2 separate regions of the Homo sapiens genome follow, and region 1 is linked to region 2. The links come from fine-mapping of genetic effects on gene expression. A gene starts in region 2. The other region holds a variant in brackets. All regions are shown on one strand. Distances are between the middles of the regions. Region 1 overlaps NGLY1 (N-glycanase 1). Region 2 holds the start of OXSM (3-oxoacyl-ACP synthase, mitochondrial).

Evidence for each region. PIP is the estimated chance that this variant, and not a neighbour inherited with it, causes the effect. A credible set is the group of variants that fine-mapping cannot tell apart.
Region 1: its variant is the best candidate, but not a certain one, in a credible set for the expression of OXSM in blood mononuclear cells (TOPMed, PIP 0.72).

What each region holds. Positions count from the first base shown.
Region 1 is chr3:25,730,504-25,735,893 of GRCh38, forward strand. NGLY1 (N-glycanase 1) reads right to left here. Exons shown (of 12, transcript NM_018297.4): 8 at 3,369-3,479; 9 at 1,816-1,980. Among named protein-coding and RNA genes, the nearest start is that of NGLY1, 50 kb to the right of the region's middle. The variant A/C (reference allele first, on the strand shown) is at 2,534.
Region 2 is chr3:25,787,973-25,793,362 of GRCh38, forward strand. OXSM (3-oxoacyl-ACP synthase, mitochondrial) reads left to right here and starts at 2,118. Exons shown (of 3, transcript NM_017897.3): 1 at 2,118-2,175; 2 at 3,018-4,025. The coding sequence starts at 3,049. It also overlaps a transcript of NGLY1 not described here. RefSeq lists enhancers at 1,597-2,126, 2,266-2,335, 2,346-2,415 and a silencer at 1,944-2,163.

The DNA.
Region 1 (5,390 bases), 57 kb before region 2:
AGAAATGAAGACCTAAATAATATCCATGTTTTAAATTGAACACAGCTGCGAATTAAATTAGCTCTTTTTAACTGGCTGTATTTAGATTTATACTTGTAACACACTGCATTGGCAGTGATTTGAATTATTTGTTGAATTTGGATCTTGTAATCCTATGGCTGAACCAACACTTTTAACTGCCCGCTACAGACGATGGGATAAATTAAAAAGCAAACATAAAATTTATTAGTGATAATTCACTCCTTTAAAACATATTCTGTTACTAGAGAAATGAACTGTAACAATGGCAAATTTAGAAAAAGTAGATAAATACAACTTTAATTTGTTTGGAACTGCTTGATACTGATATTGTGATGAGTTATTTTTCTTTCAAGCATTTTTCATTGCATATTTCCTAAACATTTTATTAAATGCTCTCCAGTGACTCAACTTTAGCTCCCTAAGGGCAAAGGACAGTCTATTATACTGCCCTAATGCCTGTTACAAAGCCTAGCACACTGATTTTTACCTAGTCCCTTAACTTTAGGACCTACCTATGGAAATTATATTTCCATTGTTATTTAATTTTGGAAGATTAATCATGTGGTATCTTAAAATAAATTTTAATATAACAGTAATCATGCCACCAACAATTTCTAGCCAATATCAGATATATGCAAGCATATACCAAGAAATAAACACTTTCATCAGCTGAATTCCCCAAATTCTGTATTTTCTCCACTCCATAAAGTTTTCATCTGGAGAGGAAAAACGTAAAACAGCATTCTTTTAAATGCATTAGAATCTCATTTTAAAAGACCTAAATAAGCACTTCACAAAAGAGAATGAGGATATCCAAAAGTTTAAAGAACAGGCATTCACCATAATTAGTCATCACCAAAATGCAAATTAAAATCACGATACTACTATACGCCACCAGAACTGCTAAAATGAAAAGATAGACAATACCAAGTGTACACAAAGATGTCGAAAAACTTCATATACTGCTGGTGAGAGTATAAGCTGGCATAACCATTTTGAAAAACTGTTTGGCAATATGTACTAAAGCTGAATATACTCATACTCTATTACCTAGCAATTCCACTCCTAGGTATACATCCAACAAAATGCCTAAACATATTCACTGAAAACGTGAATATAAATGTTCAGAGCAGCACCATTTATATCAGCCAAAACTAGAAATAACCCAAATAGCCATCAACAGTGAAAAATTACATTCATACAATAAATTATACAGCAATGAGAACATACCATACACGTTGCAACATGTATCTCACTGACACAAAGTTACACAAAACAAGCTATATACAAAACAGTACATGCTATATGATTCCATTTTATAAAGCACAATAACAGGCAAAACTAATATATGATGTTAGAAGCCAGAATAATGATTACTTTCGAGGGTGTAAGGCAGTGGGGAAAGAAACTCACGCTTGTTTCTACGGTTCCAGTGATCTATTTCTTATTCTGGTTGGCGATTACATGGGTGTTAAATTTGTAAACATTCATTAAGCTGTACATTTATAATTTGTGCATTTTCCTGTATATTCTTCAGTAAAAGTTACACTGCACTAAAAATTTACATAAGGTAAAAAAAATTTTAAGTCCCATTTTAAAAATGCTTTGCTAACTCTTACACGATAATGCTATGTAAATCAATTACTGGTTCTCTTCAAATGTTTGCATTTTAAAATAATTACTCTCAAGTTAACTGAAAGGTCATAGTCAATGCAGTTGGAGGATAGTATAGGAAGAGCATAGTATATGAAGCAGGAAAGTAAAAGGATCATCATGCTAGAATGAATTAAATACCTGTAGACCCATTTCACCTCGGGCTACTCTCCAAGCCACTGACCCAGATATTCTTCCCCCAAGTTCTCCAGGTTTAGGGGTTTTGGGAGATATAAATTCAACAAGCTCCACAATTATCCTCTGGAGAAGTTCTTTCCTTCTGTTTTCTGACAAAAACAGTTGCCTCTGTAATTCATGTTTTTTAAAAAAGTTGTTAAGATTAGGGGAATGTATAGGTCCATCTCTAAGCAAGAATATACTTAAAACACTTGCATTTTAAGAGGTCTTGAAACAAGTACTGAATTTTATTTTCAAACATATATTATTCAGAAAATAAAAAGGACACTGTGGAAAACTTAAATAATTTTATAAATTTTATGTTGGGAAATCATTTAACACCTATTTCCAACTCTCCATGAGCTCTACTGTCCTAGATTTATTTATAATGAAGGTAGCAACTTCTGTTTCTGGATATGATAGACTGGCTTGTGTCAGAATGTCTTACTGAGAAAAGCTAGAAAAGCTAGTGGAAACACACAAACAGAACACTCACATATAAACACCTGTTTGAGTGCAACAGAAAGCTGTAAAGGCAGCCAGAACTTGAGAAGTCAAGATTCCAAGAGAAGAAAAGAATTGAGGTGAAGGGCACATACTGCACCTCTTTTCCCTTCCAGTCATTTGTCAATTATTAAGTGGCATGAGAAGAGGCTGAGAAGCCAAGGACAAAATAGTGACT[A/C]AAGTGCTGGAAATCAAAGCAGAATTTTTAGCAGAATCACAGTGCTGGGGTAAAAATAAACTGAGGGTCAGAGTGTTCTAATGCAAGGGGATCTAGCAAATAATCCAGGTTTTCAGGTAGAGATCTCCGAAGGGCTACACATCAGGAGTAAGTGCAGATTCAAAATAGACTGAAACCTCACCTGGAATCATTATCACTGATTGGATTAATGTGCTCTGCCCTGTTCTAACTGCCTGCTACAGCAAAATTCACTGCTTATTTTTTAATTTATGAAAAAAACCCACATGTATAGAGTTAAAAATTTCAATACTATCAAAGGGGTATAAAACAAAAATTGAACCTTTCATCTTGGAACTCCAGTTCCTCCTCTCAGAAGTAGTCATTGTTAATAACTTCCTGTGCCTTGCTTCAGAAATTTCCTCACATGGACGTGTGTGTGTGTGTGTGTGTGTGTGTGTGTGTGTGTGTGTGTGTGTGTGTATGTACATACATAATACATAAATATGAGTCTGTGTCATATCCAAGGCACAGTTACACTGATAAATAAGACAACACATTTTTTGTCAGGTACTACCAATACTGAAATTTTGTTTCAAAGAACTTTGAAATGAGACAGTTTAATCCAAAATAACTCATAATATTTAAAATGAGTCCGCAAAATTTTCAATGAACAAAAAGAATATTTTTATTCTTTAATATTCAAAAAGAATATTAAAATATTCTTGTTTATAAAACAATGCTACTACTTTAAGAATTTCAATAGGCTAATAAACGGCTATTCTCGATTACATAAAAAATGTCAACTGTTCTTTCAAAAAAGATAGCCACACCATACCTGCTTATTAAGCCCATTAATAGTGTCTCGAAGTAATGCTTCTTTAACCTTAGTTCTTCTGGCAATCACCTCTTCATGTTTGCAGGAATATCGCCAAGTGACATCAACTACCTGAAACAAATAACAGAATACAAATACTTAACAAGATTACAACCATCAACCTTTACTTACTAAATACCTAGAATGTATGTAATTTTTAAATGCATTTTTTTGGAGACGAAGTCTCGCTCTGTTGTCCAGGCTAGAGTGCAGTGGCGTGATCTCAGCTCACTGCAGTCTCACTTCCCAGGGTCAAGAGATTCTCGTATCTCAGCCTCCTGAGTAGCTGGGACTATAGGCATGCACCATCACGCCTGGCTGATTTTTGTATTGTTTTAAGTAGAGATGGGGTTTCACCATGTTGGCTAGGCTGGTCTCGAACTCCTGACCTCAGGTGATCCACCCACCTTGGCCTCCCAAAGTGCTGGGATTATAAGCATGAGCCACCACGCCCAGCCTTAAATGCAATTTTTAGAATACTATCCTTTGTTTAAAATTTAAAAGTCATGGGGCCTGGTGCAGTGGCTCATGCCTGTAATCTCAGCACTTTGGGAGGCTGAGGTGAGCAGATCACCTGAGGTCAGGAGTTGGAGACCAGCCTGGCCAACATGGTGAAACCCCGTCTCTACTGAAAAAAAACAAACAAAAAAAATTAGCCAGGTGTGGTGGCATGTGCTTGTAATCCCAGTTACTCAGGAGGCTGAGGCAGGAGAATCGCTTGAACTTGGGAGGCAGAGGTTGCAGTGAGCTGGGATCATGCAACTGCACTCCAGCCTGGGCAAGAGGGTGAGACTGTCTCGAAAAATTAAAATAAAATAAAATAAAACGTAAAAGCCTATAAAATAAACGGAAGAGAATACGTCACTTATTCATTCCTAAACAGTTGATAGTTTAACCAGAAACGCTATGATAAAAAAGTGAAAATTTCAAAACATTACCTTTTTAAAATTTATCTGCAAAGCTGATTCCACAAAATTCAACAAATAAAAATTTTATCCATTTTTATTGTATTAGATTTATATTACAGAACTGATTTTTGATACAAGTGGAAAGACAATTCAATGGAGAAAAAATAATCTTTTCAATAAATGGTGCTAGAACAATTCATTATCCATATGTAAAAAAAAACTTCATACACCTTGGATCATATAAAAAAATTAACTCAAAATGGATTGCAGACATAAGCATAAAACCAAAAAAAACTTCTAAAACAAAACATAGGAGAAAATCATTGTGACCAAGGGCTAGGCAAAATTTCTTAAATATAACATCAAAAAGCACAATCCATAAAACAACCAATTGGTAAACTGAACGCCAGTTTCTTCTCTTCAAAAATCATTAAGAGCATAAAAAGACAAACTACAGATAGGGAGAAAAATCTTTGCAAAGCACATATCTGATAATGGACTTATATAAGAATATATAAAGAACTCTCAAAACCAAACAGTAAGAAAACACAATACCCAATTAAAAAAAATAAGCAAAGGGGACATATGGATGGTAAGCAAACACATAAAAAGATGCTCAGTATTATTTGTCATTAGGGAAGTACAAATAAAAACCATAATGAAATGCCACTACACACCTATTAAAGGGGATAAAATTAAAAAGTCAGATCATACTAAATGTTAGCAAGGACATGGAGAAACTGGAAACTTACATACTGCTTGCGAAAATGTAAAATGGCACAACCACGTTGGAAAATAGTTTAGTGGTTTCTTAAAAAGTTGTATGTATATCTACCATATAATGCAGCCATTCTACTCCTAGGCATTAAGCAAAGAGAAAAGGCAGCATATGCCCATATAAAGACTTGTGTGCCTGAGTGTTCATGGCAGCTTAATTTGAAATTGTGAAAAAAACTGGGAACTACCCAAATAGCCATCAACAGGTGAAATGGTAAACTATGGCACATCCATACAATGAATACTGATTTGCAGTGATGATTTCAGTGTATACAAATAAAACTTATCAAACTGTACA
Region 2 (5,390 bases):
CTCTGAAGCCTTTTCTGACTTTACGAGGTAGCACAGACCTCATTGTCCCTTTTGTGTTATAATAATTCCACTATAGCACCTGTTTCAACAGTTTGCACTTACTTGTTTCTATGGGTGTCTCCCTTTACTAGACCATAAACTTCTTGAAAGCAAGAGCCATACCTCTACTCATTTTTGCATTCAAACTTCAAGCATTGATAGGAAGAAAATGAGTGGTTGTTGAAAATAGCAAAAGCACAGAGATGAGAAAAGTTAGGGTCAATCAAGACATGTATAGTGAGAAAATCAGTTTGCTGGGTGGCAAGCTCATTTAATAGAGAATGGGAGCCATAATTGGAAAGATAGTTTTGAATCAGATTACAAAGAATTTAAGGCAAACCTAGGAAGTCTTAATAGGAGGGTAGGATAAGCAGAGCCCATTTGAAGATTTTGGTGCAAGAAGACACGATGGAATTGTAGCAGGAAATATGGTACCAAATATGTAAAGCCATTAAATATCATAAAATTTCCCACCCTTTTCCAGATCAAAGAAAAGGTGATAAGAGGTAGATACAAAAATGATGGTCTTTTTATTTTTCTGAAAGATTTTGTCACCTCTTAGCCAAGACGATTTTGTGATATTACAAAAGAAATAGCACATTAAAACTGTATGTTTCTTATGAGTTCAGCTTCAGAGAAAATATTGTAGGTATTTTCACACTATTATTTTAAAGACAGCAATGAAAAGAGATCAAGTTTAGGTACTTACTCATCAAGTGTTACTTTATAACCACATGTGTTTGTTTTAATTCTTCAAGAAACTCTACTTTGTCACTGAATGAGGATCAACTAGAGGTGACTGGTTAGGCCTGGGACGAAGGTCAAACTGAGCTTTGCTGAATTATTTTAAACAAAATAGATTTCCAAACTCATTTAAATCCAGGACCAACCTGGAAAGCTAAGCTTGACTCACATTCTTCTGTAGGGGTAGGAAAGAATGCAGAGCACTCTACTTGGAAACAATGGCTTCAAGAGGCATTGCCCAGAAAAAACCATAAATATGACTAGAAGGTCCAGATGAAGATTCTATGCTCAACCATTTTTCTAAAGAAGAGCAAGGACAAAACTCACGCCTGGGATAGCATGTGAAAAACAGATGTTCGATGAATACCATCTTGTCGACTTCTTGCTTTTTTACATTTTCATGTTATATTTTCCCTTTATCGGTTTGCAGTCAGCTCTAAGCAAACAGTTAATGAATTTTTCACACTTAGAAACAAATGTCTCCATTGTGACAATGGAGACAATTTTTGAGCACTGTCTCAAATCTGGTGATAATTTTTTTTTAAGTGAAAGGAAGTTTATTAGGAAAGTAAAGGAACAAAGAATGACTACTCCATAGGCAGAACAGCCTGGTGACAACTTTTAAAAAGTAAAAACTTTATTACAAAAACATTTGTTTATTGTAGAAAAGCTTTATTAAATAAAGCTAAGCAAAAATAAGGAGGGAAAGATCACAATCAGTATACATCTTGCAGACCTTTAAAGAATTATTTTTGAAAAAACGGATATATACTGTTTTGTAACTATGTCTCCTAACAAATAGTCGCAACATCTCATTAATAAATATTCACCTGCAGAATTATTTTAAACGGCTGCATGGCATTTGGATGTACCACAAGATACACAACAAATTTCCTGATGTTGGCCATTTTGGTTAATTCCACTTTACTCACAATTACTAATAACGTTGCGAGCTATAGCAATAACTTTGAAACTGCAGAGAATTTCCTTAATTCTTTCTTACAATTCCAGTAGAATACGATGGTGTCCCTTCTCCGACAAAAGGGAATATTTGGGCATTATCACTGCCAAAGAAAAATGCCTTTTTGATGGGTGAAAATGCTACCTCATCGCGTTATTGGCAGGTCCTCGATTATCGGCGAGTCACTGAGGTTCCGAGAGGGGCGTCTCTGCTCACGCAAACAGCTACCCAGCCGCCTCCCACGGTCTGACCTCAGCCAAGGTGACGCGGCTTAAAGTCAACCGGCGGAAAGAGAGTCGAACGGGACGCGTGCGTGGGAAAGCGCATGAGCGTACGTGCGAGCGCGCATGAGCGTACGTGCGTGTGCGCGTGCGCTCGAGAGCGTCATCGCCCCCGACTGTGGAGAAGTGTCCGGGGTAGCCCCGTTACAGGTATCGCTGGCTACCCTCCTCCTTCGCCCCTCCTTTCCTCCTTTACATTCAAATCAAGTCGGGGTTGAATTTCGAGAGGGGAGTCCGAGGACCTGGGGCCTGATTTCTTTTTCTCTCGCCATGCTTCTTCGGGCTGTGTACATGTGTGGTGGTGCCTGAGAGGCGATACAGGGAATGGCTACACTCTTTTACTCCCGCCCCTGGCCTTCGTAGTACCCTTGAAGTGATCCACTAGTCGTAACCCCTCCTTCCACCAATGATTCAATTGGAGAAGTTTAGAGGAGTGGAAAGACTTGTCCCCTTCCCCCATCGCAAGCTTGGTCACAGAGTGTATTGCCAACCCATGTATCCAGACGCTCAGTCTAGGGCTCTTGGCCCTGGGTAGCGTTTTGAAAAGGCTGGTTATCCTTAAGTACTGAAGATTGATAAAGCCCACTTACTTACTTAAAAGAATATGCCCTGAAATGTGTTTTCTGTGCCACTGACACCAGAAATGCTATTTAGAAGAAGTTATCAGTAATCCTGACAAAGGATGCTTCCTGCAGCTCAAATCAGGCTGGAGGTGCCTTTATATTTTTCATTGAATTACTGTTTTGGTGACTCGAATGAATCATCAATTCATTTATTTGTCTTCAAATGTCTGACGGCACTTAAGGTCTAAAAAAGAAGGTAAGTTTAAACAGATAGTTTGATGTTAAGGTATAAATTGAAAGTATGTAACATTTTCCCTGTGTTCATTAGCAGCTCATATCAAGCACCCAAAGGAACACCTTGGATGTTTTTCCTTAGGCCCTTAAGCTATTTAAAAGAATACCTCCTAGGTGTGTTGTGGTCTTTTACAGGAATGTGTTTCTGATCATCTGAATCTTAATCATGTCCAACTGCCTGCAAAATTTCCTGAAAATTACAAGCACTCGTCTTCTATGTTCAAGATTATGCCAACAGTTAAGAAGTAAAAGGAAGTTTTTCGGAACTGTGCCAATATCCAGATTGCATAGGCGAGTTGTCATTACAGGCATTGGCTTAGTGACTCCTCTTGGTGTTGGAACTCACCTGGTTTGGGATCGTCTTATCGGAGGAGAGAGTGGAATTGTTTCACTGGTTGGTGAAGAGTATAAGAGTATCCCTTGCAGTGTTGCTGCTTATGTGCCAAGAGGTAGTGATGAAGGTCAGTTCAATGAACAAAACTTTGTGTCCAAATCAGATATCAAGTCCATGTCTTCTCCCACCATCATGGCCATTGGGGCTGCAGAATTAGCCATGAAGGATTCTGGCTGGCATCCTCAGTCAGAAGCTGATCAAGTGGCTACTGGTGTTGCAATTGGCATGGGAATGATTCCTCTTGAAGTTGTTTCTGAAACTGCTTTGAATTTTCAGACAAAAGGTTACAATAAAGTTAGCCCATTTTTTGTCCCTAAGATTCTGGTCAATATGGCAGCAGGCCAGGTCAGCATTCGATATAAACTCAAGGGCCCAAATCATGCAGTATCCACAGCCTGTACCACAGGAGCTCATGCTGTGGGAGACTCATTTAGATTTATAGCCCATGGTGATGCTGATGTGATGGTGGCTGGAGGTACAGATTCTTGTATTAGCCCTTTATCTCTTGCTGGGTTTTCCAGAGCCCGGGCTCTGAGCACAAACTCAGATCCCAAGTTGGCATGTCGACCATTTCATCCAAAGAGAGATGGTTTTGTAATGGGAGAAGGTGCAGCTGTGCTGGTGCTGGAAGAATATGAACATGCTGTTCAAAGAAGAGCCCGGATCTATGCAGAAGTTTTGGGCTATGGACTCTCAGGTGATGCTGGTCACATAACTGCCCCTGATCCTGAAGGAGAAGGTGCCTTAAGGTAAAGATGGGTTATTTCCTTCGAAATATTTCTTCAAATAAGACACTTTATTGGGAATCCCAAATTAGGGAAGTTGTAGTGTCTGGCCTTGGTGTACAGTATCTCTGTTGTTTTTCTTTTTTAGACTAAACAAGATTGTTTAGTTCTTTGCTTAAGACATTTGAAGTATTTCAAAGCATTTGAACATACTTACAAAAATTGCATTTGAGTTAAAAACCAATGGAGTTGTGGAAAAGACCATGTGTGTCTTTGCCAACTTTTCACGCCTGCATTTGTGCTTAAGCATCAGTGTGCTCCCTCACAAAGTCCTCCTCTTTGACCCTTCATCAGACTTGGAAAGTAAAGTCAACCCTTCTAGATGTGTCTGGTTTTGCTCCATTTCAACAGGATTCTGTTCTTTTCAAATCAGCACTTCTCAAACTATAATCACCTAGGGATCTTATTTAAAATGCTAATTCTGATTCTGTAGGTCTAGGGTGGTGCTTGAGATTCTGTTTTGTTTTGTTTTTTTAGAGACAGGGTCTCTCTGTATTGCCCATGCTGGTCTTATCTCACTGCAGTCTCTAACTCCTGGGCTCAAGCAATCCTCTCACCTCAGCTTCCTGAGTAGCTGGGACTACAGGAATGCGCCACTGAGACCAGTTTTCTTTTTTTTGAATTTGTTTGTAGAGATGGGGTTTCACTTTATTTCCCAGGCTGAGAGATTCTGTAGTTCTAACAGGTGATGGTGATACTGCTGGTTTAAGGACTACATTTAAGTTAACTGTTATAGATTAGTGCATTTAAAATGCAAAAAAATAAAAATAAAAAGTCCCTGATAATGTGTTAATAGATAGCTAATAGTTTAGCTTTCTTAAATCATATTATGTTTTACTCAGTTAAATTAGCCAGAGTTAGCAACCTTTTCTGTAATGGGAAAAATATAGTAAATATTTTTGGCTTTGTGGGCCATGGAGTCTGTTGCAACTAATCAACTCTGCCATTGTCATGTGAAAGCAGCCGTAGACAGTATGTAAATGTGTGGGCATGAATGTGTTCCAATGAAACTATTTACAAAAATAGGCATCTAGCCAGGGCCATAGTTTACCTACCCCTAAATTATACATTTGAATTTTATTTTATTTGTTTTTGTTTGTTTGTTTTTCTTTTTTCTTTCTTTTTTTTTTTTTTAGTAGAGTTGGGGTCTTGCTATGTTGCCAGAGCAAGAGCTGGTCTCAAACTCCTGGCCTCAAGCAGTCCTCCTGCCTTGGCCTCCCAAAGTGCTGGGATTACAGGTGTGAGCTACCATGCCTGGCCTACTTTTGAATTTTAGTGAGTAGTTGCTGGTGGTAAAAATGTCAAGCATAGTAACAAAATAGATGAAGA